Homo sapiens: one gene and its partners. The protein of the gene in region 2 purifies or fractionates together with the protein of the main gene of each other region. This does not show direct contact. Each region holds a gene or a part of one and is shown on either strand. Other genes may lie near its edges. The genes, in order: DPY19L1, BTN3A3 and ODR4.

Region 1 (3,655 bases), on a different chromosome or scaffold from region 2:
AATGCATATGTTAACAATACCTGTAGAATTTTTCTCAAGGACTATCGAAAAACAGTTTGAACAATTGAAGATATATGTTATGTATATATACACATACCTATATATACAACATATGTATATACCCACACCACATTTATGGATATGAAGGCTCTATATTGTAAACGTGTAAATTCTTCCCAAATTAATTTTATAAGTGAAAATCCAATTATAACCTCAGAGTGATTACCAAAGTAGAAGCATGGCAAGTCTTCAGTATGATAAAAGTTGCATTTACATTCAATGGGAGAAAAATAATTTATTCAGAAAATGATAGTTGAATCATTGTGAAAATAAAGACCAAATTTTATTATGTTAGGATTATTATTATTTTTTTTCTTTAGAGACAGGGTCTTGTTGTGTCATCCAGGCTAGAGTACAGTGGTGTGATCATAGCTGACTACAACCTCAACCTCTTGGACTCAAGCGATCCTCCCAGCTCAGCCTTCCTGAGTAGCTGGGACAATAGGCTCGTGCTTTGTAAAGACCTGATCTTGCTGTGTTACCCAGCCTAGATTTAAACTCCTGTCCTCAGCTGATCCCCCTACTTCCTCCAGCCGAGTAGCTGGGATTATAGTCATGAGCCTGGCAGATAAAGTTTTTAAAGACAGAAACTAAAAGGAAGCAAATGGTAGATTTGTTAATAAGAAAAAAATTTAAAATTTCAAAAGATCAATATATCTTATTAAAAAAAGTCAAATGACAAACTAAGTTAGATATTTGTAACTTCAATTATCTAGAAGTAACCATTCGTATTTCCAAGGCAAAATGGATTTTTAAATGAAAAAATATAACTGACTTTAAGAATAAAACAATAAGATCTGATCTATTTGGTTTTCATTTTTCTTTCCTTCTCTTCCTCCTTATTCTTCCTTCCTCCTCTCTTCTTCCTTCTTTCCTCTTCCTTCTCCTCCTCTTCTTCCTTCTTTCTTCTTCCTTCTCCTTCTCTTCTTCCTTCTTCTTCTTTCTTTTTCCTTCTTCTTCCTCCTACTTCTTCTTTTTCTCTTTCTTTTGTTTTTTTGAGAAACAGAGTCTCAGTATGTTGCCCAGGCTAGAGAGCAGTGGCTGTTAACAGTCATAGTCATAGCACACTGCTGCAGCCTTGAATTCCTGGGCTCGAGATGATGCTGCCTCTGCTTCCCCAGTAATGGATACTACAGGCATGTGCCACTGTATCTGGCCTGGGTTTCCTTTCTAGGAGTATTTTCATAGGTTGATTCCTTAGTTAAGAGTTATTTAATCAGAAGCCTGCCATCAGCTGTATCTTGTGAGATAAGAAAATTGAATGGTGTCTTCCAGGTTCATCTTAGTATGTTCTTTCTGCTTGGACAGATAGCAAGGTATTGATTTTCATATGAGACTGATTTTATTACTAGCTTGTTTTCTCTCTCTTACCTTTTCTTCTCCTTTACTCATTTCATTTTAAATTTGTTTAAAGACACGGGTTAATATTTGTCATAAAATTTCAGGCATTGCAGCAGTATATCAGAAGTGGTAGTTCCCTTTTTTCTTCCACCCCCAATCCTGTACCCCTCAGCCACCATATTTCTTTATTCTAAGTTATCCTTACCTGTTGATTCCATTCCTCTCTCAGTTCTATTAGCAATAGTTTCCATCTAATGGTTTCTGTCTATTAGCGGATATTAGGCCTTCATATATTTTGTTGAATGAGTGAGTGAGTGAAAATGGTGGCTGTATGCTTAATTCCCTTATGAGCTAGTCAATCACAATTTTAAACGTAGCCCTGGGACTTTTTTGAAGACCCAGTATTCTTTTTTACACATTTCAATATTTGACATGCTTTATCTTTGAAATGGCTTTTCTGTAAGATGAACATGTTTATGCTAAAATTCTAATTTAAATTTCTTTTTTCTTACAGCTGTTTTTGCAGCAGTGTTGCACTGGTAAGATTGTTTTTTTCTCCTATGGTATTTTATGCAGACGTTTATAACTTGCTAAAGCTATTTCCCATACATTTAAAGGAATAATTTCAGCATGATCAGTATGAATATATATTACATGTAACACAATAGTCTGAAAAACTAGTTTAATTGATAAATCAGGGTCAGAATAATATAATTGTTTAATAAAAAAGAGATTCATTATTAAAGAGGCTATATTTGAGACTCCACTCAACATTAATATGTTCATGGTGAGAGAGAGATTAATTTATTTAATCTTCTAGATAGAAATATGAATTTCATTAGATGTTTCTAAAATGGTAACCCAATGACATTTACAGTTTAATCTATACTTTTATTGTACTTCACTTAAAATATTCTGGTTCATTTTAATTTTAAAATCTAATTTGATTTTTTAGAGAGGGAAATTTTAGTATAAATGCAATACATACTGAGTGAAAAAAATATAGATACTATTGTATTTGAGTGTTATTACAAAATTATCTGCAAGTTAACTGATACTTTTATTTTTGCTTTTAGCTTACTTTAAAAAATAATACTTAGAGTGTAAGTTTTAACACTATTGCTTTGTTTTGTTTTTCCAGGAGCCATATAACACACCTCTTTGAAAATGACCGTCATTTTTCTCACCTCTCAACATTGGAAAGGGAGATGGCTTTTCGCACTGAAATGGTTAGTTTTTATTTGGGATTTCATCATAGTACTTTAGGAATTTAAAAACATTTAATATTTTTTATTATGGAAAATTTCAAGATGTTCCAAAGTAGAAAGAGTAGATGCTCCACCTTCTACAGCTGACAGCCACAGCCAGTTTTCCTTCATCTACACCCCCACTCACTATGTCTTTTTTATTTTTTATTTTTATTTATTAATTTTTTTTTCGAGACGGAGTCTCGCTCTGTCGCCCAGGCTGGAGTGCAGTGGCTCCATCTCGGCTCACTGCAAGCTGCACCTCCCAGGTTCACGCCATTCTCCTGCCTCAGCCTCCTGAGTAGCTGGGACTACAGGTGCCTGCCACCATGCCCGGCTAATTTTTTTTTTTTTTTTTTTTTGAGACGGAGTCTCGCTCTGTCGCCCAGGCCGGACTGCGGACTGCAGTGGCACAATCTCGGCTCACTGCAAGCTCCGCTTCCCGGGTTCACGCCATTCTCCTGCCTCAGCCTCCCCAGTAGCTGGGACTACAGGCGCCCGCCACCGCGCCCGGCTAATTTTTTGTATTTTTTTAGTAGAGACGGGGTTTCACCTTGTTAGCCAGGATGGTCTCGATCTCCTGACCTCATGATCCACCCGCCTCGGCCTCCCAAAGTGCTGGGATTACAGGCGTGAGCCACCGTGCCCGGCCAACTATCTCTTTTTAAAGGGAATCCCAGACATTATATCATTTCATGCTTTCATACTTTCATAAGTGTCTCTAAAGATAAGACTTTGTTTTAACTATGGCACAAAACCATGGCACAAGACATACTGGAAAACATTTAACAATATCCTTAATATAATCAAATAGAAATCAGTATTTAAATGCCCTGTTTGGCACTTTAAAAAAAAAAAAACAAAAAAACAGTTGATGTGTTTGAATAGGATCCAAACAGTGCCTACACATTGCATTTAGTTGATGTGTATCTTAAGTCTTTTAATATGTGAATTTCTTTACCTGTTTTTGTTTTGTTTTCCTGCTATTTGTTTGTTGAGAAATCCAG
Region 2 (4,284 bases):
TTCACCTTTGCTTTATGTTTTAGAAGTGTTATGGTAAACTGTTGGGAAGGAAAAGGGGGAGGGAAGAATTGTGGGATTCTGTTGGTAACAGAGACCAGAAATACCATTGGCTTAAACAAAACAAGGGTTTTCTTGTTTTTTCTTGATGTTGTTGTTTGTTTTCATGTAAAATGAATTTAGATGGCGGTAGTCCAGGGCTGACCTGGCAGCTCAGAGATGTCATTCATGCCCCAGCCTGCTTCTGACTTCATTCTCTGCTGTCTCTGCATGTGGCTTTCAACCTCAAGGTTGCCTCATGGTTCTAAGAGGGCTGCCGCACCTCTAGTTCAAAAGTCTACATCCAAGACAAGAGGAAGAAGGAAGTACGGAGAGTGTACACTCACACTCCCAGCTATCTTGGCCTCCATTCTGAAGGATCTCTGGGAGAAACACAAGCCCACAACTTTACCTACAAACTATTGATTCCAACTTAGTCCCTTGTTCTCTGGTATCTATGAGATAGCAGAGCCTATTGAAGTACCCAAGAAAATTAGGCTTTATCACCAAGAAGAAAGGGGGACTGCATGATGCAGAAGGGACCAGCCATCTCAACCAGATACTGCACAGCCTAAATTCAAACTGTTACAATATAATCAAATTTCATCAACCCCAGTCACATCTTAATCTTAGGAGTTTTGATCACTGACTTGCAAATCCAAAAAGTGTGTTTTGAGGTCCTAGGCCACAGGAAGAACCAGTTTGTCTCACAGACCTCTTACAGAGATGGCATTTGTAGTCTATCTAGATTCCAGCTTCAGATAATATGTACTCCACTGGCAGCACGAGAAATAAATACACAGGAAAATACAATATAGCACAAACCAGGAGCTGAGGGCGAATGAAGATGCTCAGAAACACCTGCACTAAAAGTTTCCTGAAAAAGGTAAAAAATGTCAATCAGCACTGCCTCTGGAAACCAGAAACATTATATTATTTGATAACAGATCCTAAGTCTGGATGCTGGAGGTGCTTAAAAATGTGCATTGCGTCTGGCTTTCTTTCCATGTATACATTTATTTGACGCTGTAGTAAAATCTCCTCCTTCAGGTACCCATATTCATGCAAGCAAATGTTAGCAAACTGCCACAGTAGCATTTTAATTAGTGCACAACTTTCTCTCTTCACCACATTATAATCTTTTCTCATTTTGTTCTGCTGCTATTTCTATTATGATAAAAGACTTAAGTAAATATGTAGAAATACTTATATACATGGACACGCAATAATGATTCAAATAGATAAACACAGAAACACAAACACTAAGGGAGGTACGGCTGGAATTTTTCTGCAACGTGTACAATTCAATGTACTTTCACTTTTCATTTCAACCCTCCTCAGTGGTTTCCTCCCAGCAACTGATGAGAAACATCACCTCTGAGCCAATCAAAAAACTAATTCTTCCAAAAAGAGATTGTTATTATTCCTCACAATAACCAGATAGCCTCTGCTTTCTTTTTCCTTTCTTCGGAATGAGAGACTCAACCATAATAGAAAGAATGGAGAACTATTAACCACCATTCTTCAGTGGGCTGTGATTTTCAGAGGGGAATACTAAGAAGTAAGTGGGGAATGTTGATTAGAGCCTGGGCTACAATGCCTGGGAGGACAAGAGCTGAATCGCTGAGAGTGGTGAGTGGGCATGCAGGGAGAGTACTTGCCCAGGGAAAGGGGTGCAGTGCCTCTGTGTGTGTGTGTGTGTGTGTGTGTGTGTGTGTGTGTGTGTGTGCGTGTGTGCGCATGGGCACCCATGCACACATGTGGGCACATGGAGAAGAGGCAAGTAGTGCAAAGAATAAAGACCTGCAGATATTGGGATTTGGTGGAAGGAGAGGGAGACAACATAAATGAAGAAATATTCCAACTGCATGTTCTTAAGAACTTATTGTGGTCAGAAAAGGGCAAAAAAGTCGCTAAAATCTGTTTTGGCCAACACAAGCCATCTATTCTAAGAGATTCTAGAAAGAGATGTGCCTTATAGATTCATATGTAAATTTGTTCATTACAGAAATACTTATAATATAGAAAAATCTGAACCAGCATACACATACAACAGGCAGGGGGTAGACAAACAGTGCGTGGCTCTATCATAAAAGAGATTTCTATGCAGCTTTTAGGCATCATGTTTTTAATGAAGGGCAATTATTTCTCATTTTAACAGCATTAGATCCATACATTAAACCTTGTTTTGTATGTTTTAGGTACAGTATCTGTTTTTCCTTCCATTAATCATTTCCTCATAACCCAATATATGTGTTTCAATGGACACAATCTATTTCATTGTGTGAATATATAATTATTTTGTAATACTTTACTAATTTTGGCTATTTCAATTATCTACATTTGGCTACTGTATAGATTTTATTATATTTAACAACCTCAGACATAAATTTTTGTCTTAATTTCTGTCTTTTTTTTTTGCCTCAACAATAATTCCTATAAGTGGAACTTTTGGGTAAAGCATACAACTTTTTTTTTTAATAGCATTTCCTTGGTAGAGCATGTAACTTTTTAAAGATGCTTGCTGTATATATGACCAAAATGCTTTGAGAAATATTTATATTTCTACTACCAAAGTATATGATTACTACTACAGAGTTTTAATTTTATTGATTGACTAATTTGTAGAAATGGGGGTCTCATTATGTTACCCAGGCTGTTTTAAACCCCTGGGCTCAAGGAATCCTCCCACCTTGACCATCCAAATTGCTAAGATTGCAGGCATGAGCCACTGAACTTTTATTCCTTTATGCTTTTCTTCATTTGCAATATTGACTATAATCAGGAAGAAAATATAAACATCCTTTAAAAAGAATGAAAACATATGTCTCACTCTAAGCAGAGCAGAGAAATTGTTAACTTTGAAACCAGTGATAATAAAAATGATACCCCTTCTATAGCAACATAAAGAGAAGTTTTGAGGAACAGAAGATGTGAAATGCAATATTTAGTCTGGGTCAGTGCAAGATCCAGGCGAGGGTGGAGGATGGCCGGCTGCACAGACCTCTGTTCCGGTGCTTTCTCTTCATCCCTCCCCACCTCCCTCTGCAGACCTTGTTCTCAGAGGCCATTCCCAGACTCAGGTAGCTACAGCAGCGGGTGTTGTGGCTGCAGGCCTCATGCTCCTTTGCTTTGGAAGAAACTGTTGAGGAGTTAGTATTTACTGAGCAGCTTATATGTTCCAGTCAGTATTATCACTCATAATAATTACTGTTAAGTAATACATGAAAAATCTTAAATTTAAAGCATTTCAATATTTTAAAAGTAAAGGGAGCAAAAGGCCAACGTGTTCTTTTGCTCACTTAACTTCCGATCTTCAGTTTAGCATGCATCTTTTTAGACTTTTTCAGGCGTTTACATCTATAAATATGCAGAAATGTATAGCTTTGTTTTTGTTTTTCAGTTGAATCATTAGTGTAGTTCTGCAACATGCTTTTTGACCGCTTAGTGTATCACCATTATCTAGGTTCATGACAATAAATCAACTCTTTTTACCTGCTGCATTGAATTCCCTCTGAGGGATGAGCCGTAGTTCCTCTAAACAGTCTCCTGTTGGGTGGCTGGTTCAGTCGGTTACCACTTTTATACTTTAAAAACAGTGCTGCAGTGTCATTCTCACAGAGGCTTCTCTCTGCACTCATGCAAGTACTTTGCTAGACTAGACATCAGAAAGTGGAATTGCTGGACCCAATTGTGCACATTCGAAATTTCACACTTCATGATATTGTATGAATCAATAAAGTTCCAATGGTTTTGTCCCATGAACAAGATCACACAGCTTGTGAATCTTAGAGCCTTTACCTATTGCTTACCTTCTTTATGTCCTTAACACTAATATAGTAGGCCTCACCCATTGTGGGTGCTCAGTAAATACTTGTTGAATGACTTTATGAAGGGAAGAAAGAAAAGATGAGTAAGGCCTGGTCTTATTCAAAGCTCTCCTAATCAATATCTTTGTGATTAAACGTGGTGGGTTCAGCCCCTGACTGACTTCAGAGCCTCTGCCAGGCAGTCTGCCTGGATCCCACCAGGAGCCACCAGGCCATAAGTTGACTGTAGTAATGGCCAAGAGTTTGATGCTTGAGGAGTCCACAGTGTTGGACACCCACAGAGCTGAACAAGGGTGGGACCAGGGAATCCAGTGAAGAGGGTCCTTCATGAATCAGAGGGGGATGATGGAAGCTTGGACCTGGCAAGGGAAGTGTGGGGAAGTGATAGGATTATGAATATTTTAATATTTTAATGCAG
Region 3 (3,655 bases), on a different chromosome or scaffold from region 2:
AAATAAAACTTCATTTTATTTAGCTGATGGTGGGACGCCATTGAAAAAATATTTCAGTCTTTGATCTCCTGAGAAAAGGATTTATTTATTGATGTAGCTAAAGGATGTTGTTATCAGATAGTTTTATTTATAAAGTAGTTTTAAGGTGAAAAGCTAAGGACATGCTAAGCAGACAGTTTCTCAAACAGAAAGGATTGCATATAATGCCAATTTGTTAGCTAATAATATATTTCTATTTTTAGGTATCCAGAATGCTACCAGGGGGACTTTTAGTTCTTGGAGTATTTATTATTACTACTTTAGAACTGGCAAATGATTTTCAAAATGCCCTGCGTAGAGTAAGTTTGATATATCGAAAATTCTTAATGAAATCAGTTATATGTTATTTTTACTGATTATGAGTATGTGTAATGATTCTAGGCATATTTACATTTGTTTTCCATAATTCTTTTTGTTGGGGTTACATTGAAAAAGCTTTTGTCACTCAATTGCTTGGATATCTTGAGTGTAAAAAATGTTTATATTTTTAAAAACTACACATTTTATTTATTATTTTTTCCATGGGTAATTTTATTCTTTATTTAGTACACTACCCAAAACAGGGCTATCATCAGCCCATATGGCATTTCATACAAATTTGAAAAAGCTATTCTTTCCTCAAGTTAAAAAGTTAAATTATTTACTTCTCAATAATAACCATGACTAATGACAGTAATTCCATGTAAATTATGCAAACAAATAATTCATTGTAAAATATTGAAAAATTCAAATGATTAATTATAATATTAAGAACTCAAAGTCACTTGGATCTAATAATTTGTTGTAAAAAAGGCATCTTTGTGGAAGTAATTCTTTTTGACAGAAAAACTACATATTTTAAAATAATCTTTATTTTAGAGGTAATTTCTGACTATTAGGAAACAAATTATAATGCTTTAAACAGTTTTTCTTATGCAATAGCAGTATTCTGTCACACCTTCCATTTAGTACCTAGTGATTACTGTAACATGAAATTAATAGGTGCTGAAATTCTTTACCTTCTTCTCAATTCTCCGGAGATCCTGAGAGTAAAACATAAACAATCAGATTATTCCTGGACACAGTATCTATCAGAAATCTCCTGTGTTTTTTGCTTAATTGCTGCACCAGAGAATTGGGTAACATAGTGTAAAAGTAAATATGAAGGTCCACATGCTGTTTTCCCTTAAACCCAAACCTAAGGTAGATTCTGTGTAGCCAGCTCTTTTAGCATTCAGGATCCACATGAACTTTTTGAAGGGTATTTCATACCCCAAAAGAGGGGGAACCTTAAAATCTTGAGACATATAAAACCCAACCCCAACAGTATCCCAGAAAAACATTTTTTAGGTAAAAAATATACAGCTGAGAACTTCAGATGTTACAGATTTTTTCAGTCTTGTAACCTGTCCTGTCAGATGTCCCAGCCTCAAGCCTTTGATATTTGCACCTAAGGGAGTAAGGGAAGAAAATGGAGATATTCTCCTCCCTGCTAAATTGTTTAACCCTCTGCCAACTTTTCCATCTTAAATAAATTTACCTTGTTTACAATTGTTCATTCTCTTTGGCATTTTGAAATTTAACCGAAATCTATGCGTATTTAATATTAATAGCATTCATTGTGCAACCTTTTTTGGCTGGTGCTGAATTGAGGGGGTTGAATGTGGGCCCAGTGCTAGAGAGATACAGCCAGGCCCACTTTCCTTGCTTTTGTATCTTTTGTTCCTAAAAAGTATATAAAACTTTAGAAATGCTTTATCTCTGACATTACTGAGTTTCAATTATCTAATTGTTTCCACTGGCTACACTGACAAACACTACAAGAAACAGCCTTATAAAACTTGTCAGTGTCACCCATTATTGTTAAGGACTTTATTCATCATATTACATTAATATTGTGTTTCCGGAAGAATTTCTTTTTATATTATGAAGAAGGTTGTGCCTCCTCTGATGATTGTTTTTAGCTTACAGACCATGTGAATTAGGTTACAGATTAGATTTCTCTCTGCACATTATTGTTAGAAAGCTTAGACCGAAATGTATTACCACCCCTTACATCAAGTATGCATTTTTATAATTCTTATTTCTGACACAAATTTATCTCACTATTCTACTTTAACTTTCAATTTGTTATTACTATATTTTATATGTTGTTATATATTGCCTTAAGTCTTGTGTGACGTTTAAATAAGAAATGCTAAATGGGTGACATGCTTGATTTCTTTAGTTAAAATCACTTATCATTTCTCATTCTAATTAAAGTCTCTGTTCTATAGTTTATATAAATTCTAGTTGCCCCAAATTAATTTTTTGTGTCCAGTTAATCTCTAATGATAGTGAATTAAATTTTTTTATTTAAACCCAATTTTTCTGTAATTTCCTAAAAGGAATTCAAAAATGTTAGTAATTAGCTCCAGTCTTTAATTTGAAGAAAAGAAAAATTAATGGTGGCACACACCTGTAGTCCCAGTTACTTGGGAAGCTGAGGTGAGAGAATCACTTGAGCCCAGGTGTTCAAGGCCAGCTTGAGCAACATAGTGAGACCCCTTCTCCAATAAATAAAGAATCATGGAATTTTAAAGCTAAATGAGAGTTGGGGACATTATAATTGCCTATTTCAACACTCATCTTTTTTTTTCATTTTACATTCAATTAGTGTGTATTTTTCTCTCTTTCAGCTAATGTTTGCTGTGGAAAAGTCTATAAATAGAAAGAGATTGTGGAATTTCACAGAGGAGGAAGTCTCAGAACGAGTGACACTTCACATTTGTGCTTCTACAAAAAAGTATCTTTTGTTCAGTTTATGGTTTAAAAGTACAAAGTACCAAAATAATATTCTTGCAAGGTTTTTTTGCTATTTATTTAAATCATCATTTAAAAAATAGGCATAGTTTTGTAAGATTTTTCTGTAAATAACATGGAATTAGAGCCACCAATAATAATAATAGCAATAATGGTTGTTAATCATGTCCCAAGGTGATAAAAAGCTTGAGATCTGTAATATGAAAGACTCAGGATTCTGAATTTTTTACCAGCTATCTGCCCTGTACATCCAAGCACAGCAGATTCCCTACAGAGATAAATGCCTAACTGATGGCTTAGGCAAAGTAATGTTTTTATTATGTTAAAGTTTTCACCTCCAGTTTCTATAGATAAGGATGTACAATTCAAAGCACAGGTGCACAGAGCTGGATGGTATAGGACATCGGAGAAATTCTTATGTCTTTGGCTAAGATGAAATGACACTAAAAGCCAGTTACACGGCCTCTTACCAGGGCAAGAGTACCTCCCAAGCAAGGGTCATCCTCACCAAAGGAGTGACACGATCCATGGACTTCCAAAGACAGAATTTTAAAAGTGACCATTCCTGCAGAAGCAGGGCTTTTTTTTTTTTTAACAACAACAAAAAAAATCTTTAGTATTTAACTGCAAAGTTTCATATACAAGCCCTTTAATCCAATAAATAGTCTCAGGTTTGACCTCATATAAAACAGTGGTACTTTTTCTTATGGAGAGTGTATATTTGAGAAGAATCTCACGAGTGCTTTGATTCTATTTATTGCAATTAGCGGGATTCATAAAAGGTAGGAAATGATTTTCAAGCACCGCAAGTACTATAGTGATAGCAGTTTGTATG

What was found.
Region 1: the proteins of BTN3A3 (region 2) and DPY19L1 purify together in Homo sapiens (affinity purification with mass spectrometry; one large-scale study listed by BioGRID and IntAct). This does not show direct contact.
Region 3: the proteins of BTN3A3 (region 2) and ODR4 purify together in Homo sapiens (affinity purification with mass spectrometry; one large-scale study listed by BioGRID and IntAct). This does not show direct contact.

What each region holds. Positions count from the first base shown.
Region 1 is NC_000007.14:35,016,857-35,020,511, reverse strand, and holds part of DPY19L1 (protein C-mannosyl-transferase DPY19L1), read left to right. Parts: intron 1-1,915; coding exon 1,916-1,940; intron 1,941-2,542; coding exon 2,543-2,630; intron 2,631-3,655. UniProt on the Homo sapiens protein: C-mannosyltransferase that mediates the C-mannosylation tryptophan residues on target proteins.
Region 2 is NC_000006.12:26,439,052-26,443,335, forward strand, and holds the start of BTN3A3 (butyrophilin subfamily 3 member A3 isoform a precursor), read left to right. Parts: upstream 1-1,452; 5' UTR 1,453-1,597; intron 1,598-4,284. UniProt on the Homo sapiens protein: Plays a role in T-cell responses in the adaptive immune response.
Region 3 is NC_000001.11:186,385,746-186,389,400, forward strand, and holds part of ODR4 (protein odr-4 homolog), read left to right. Parts: intron 1-242; coding exon 243-338; intron 339-2,696; coding exon 2,697-2,803; intron 2,804-3,655. UniProt on the Homo sapiens protein: May play a role in the trafficking of a subset of G-protein coupled receptors.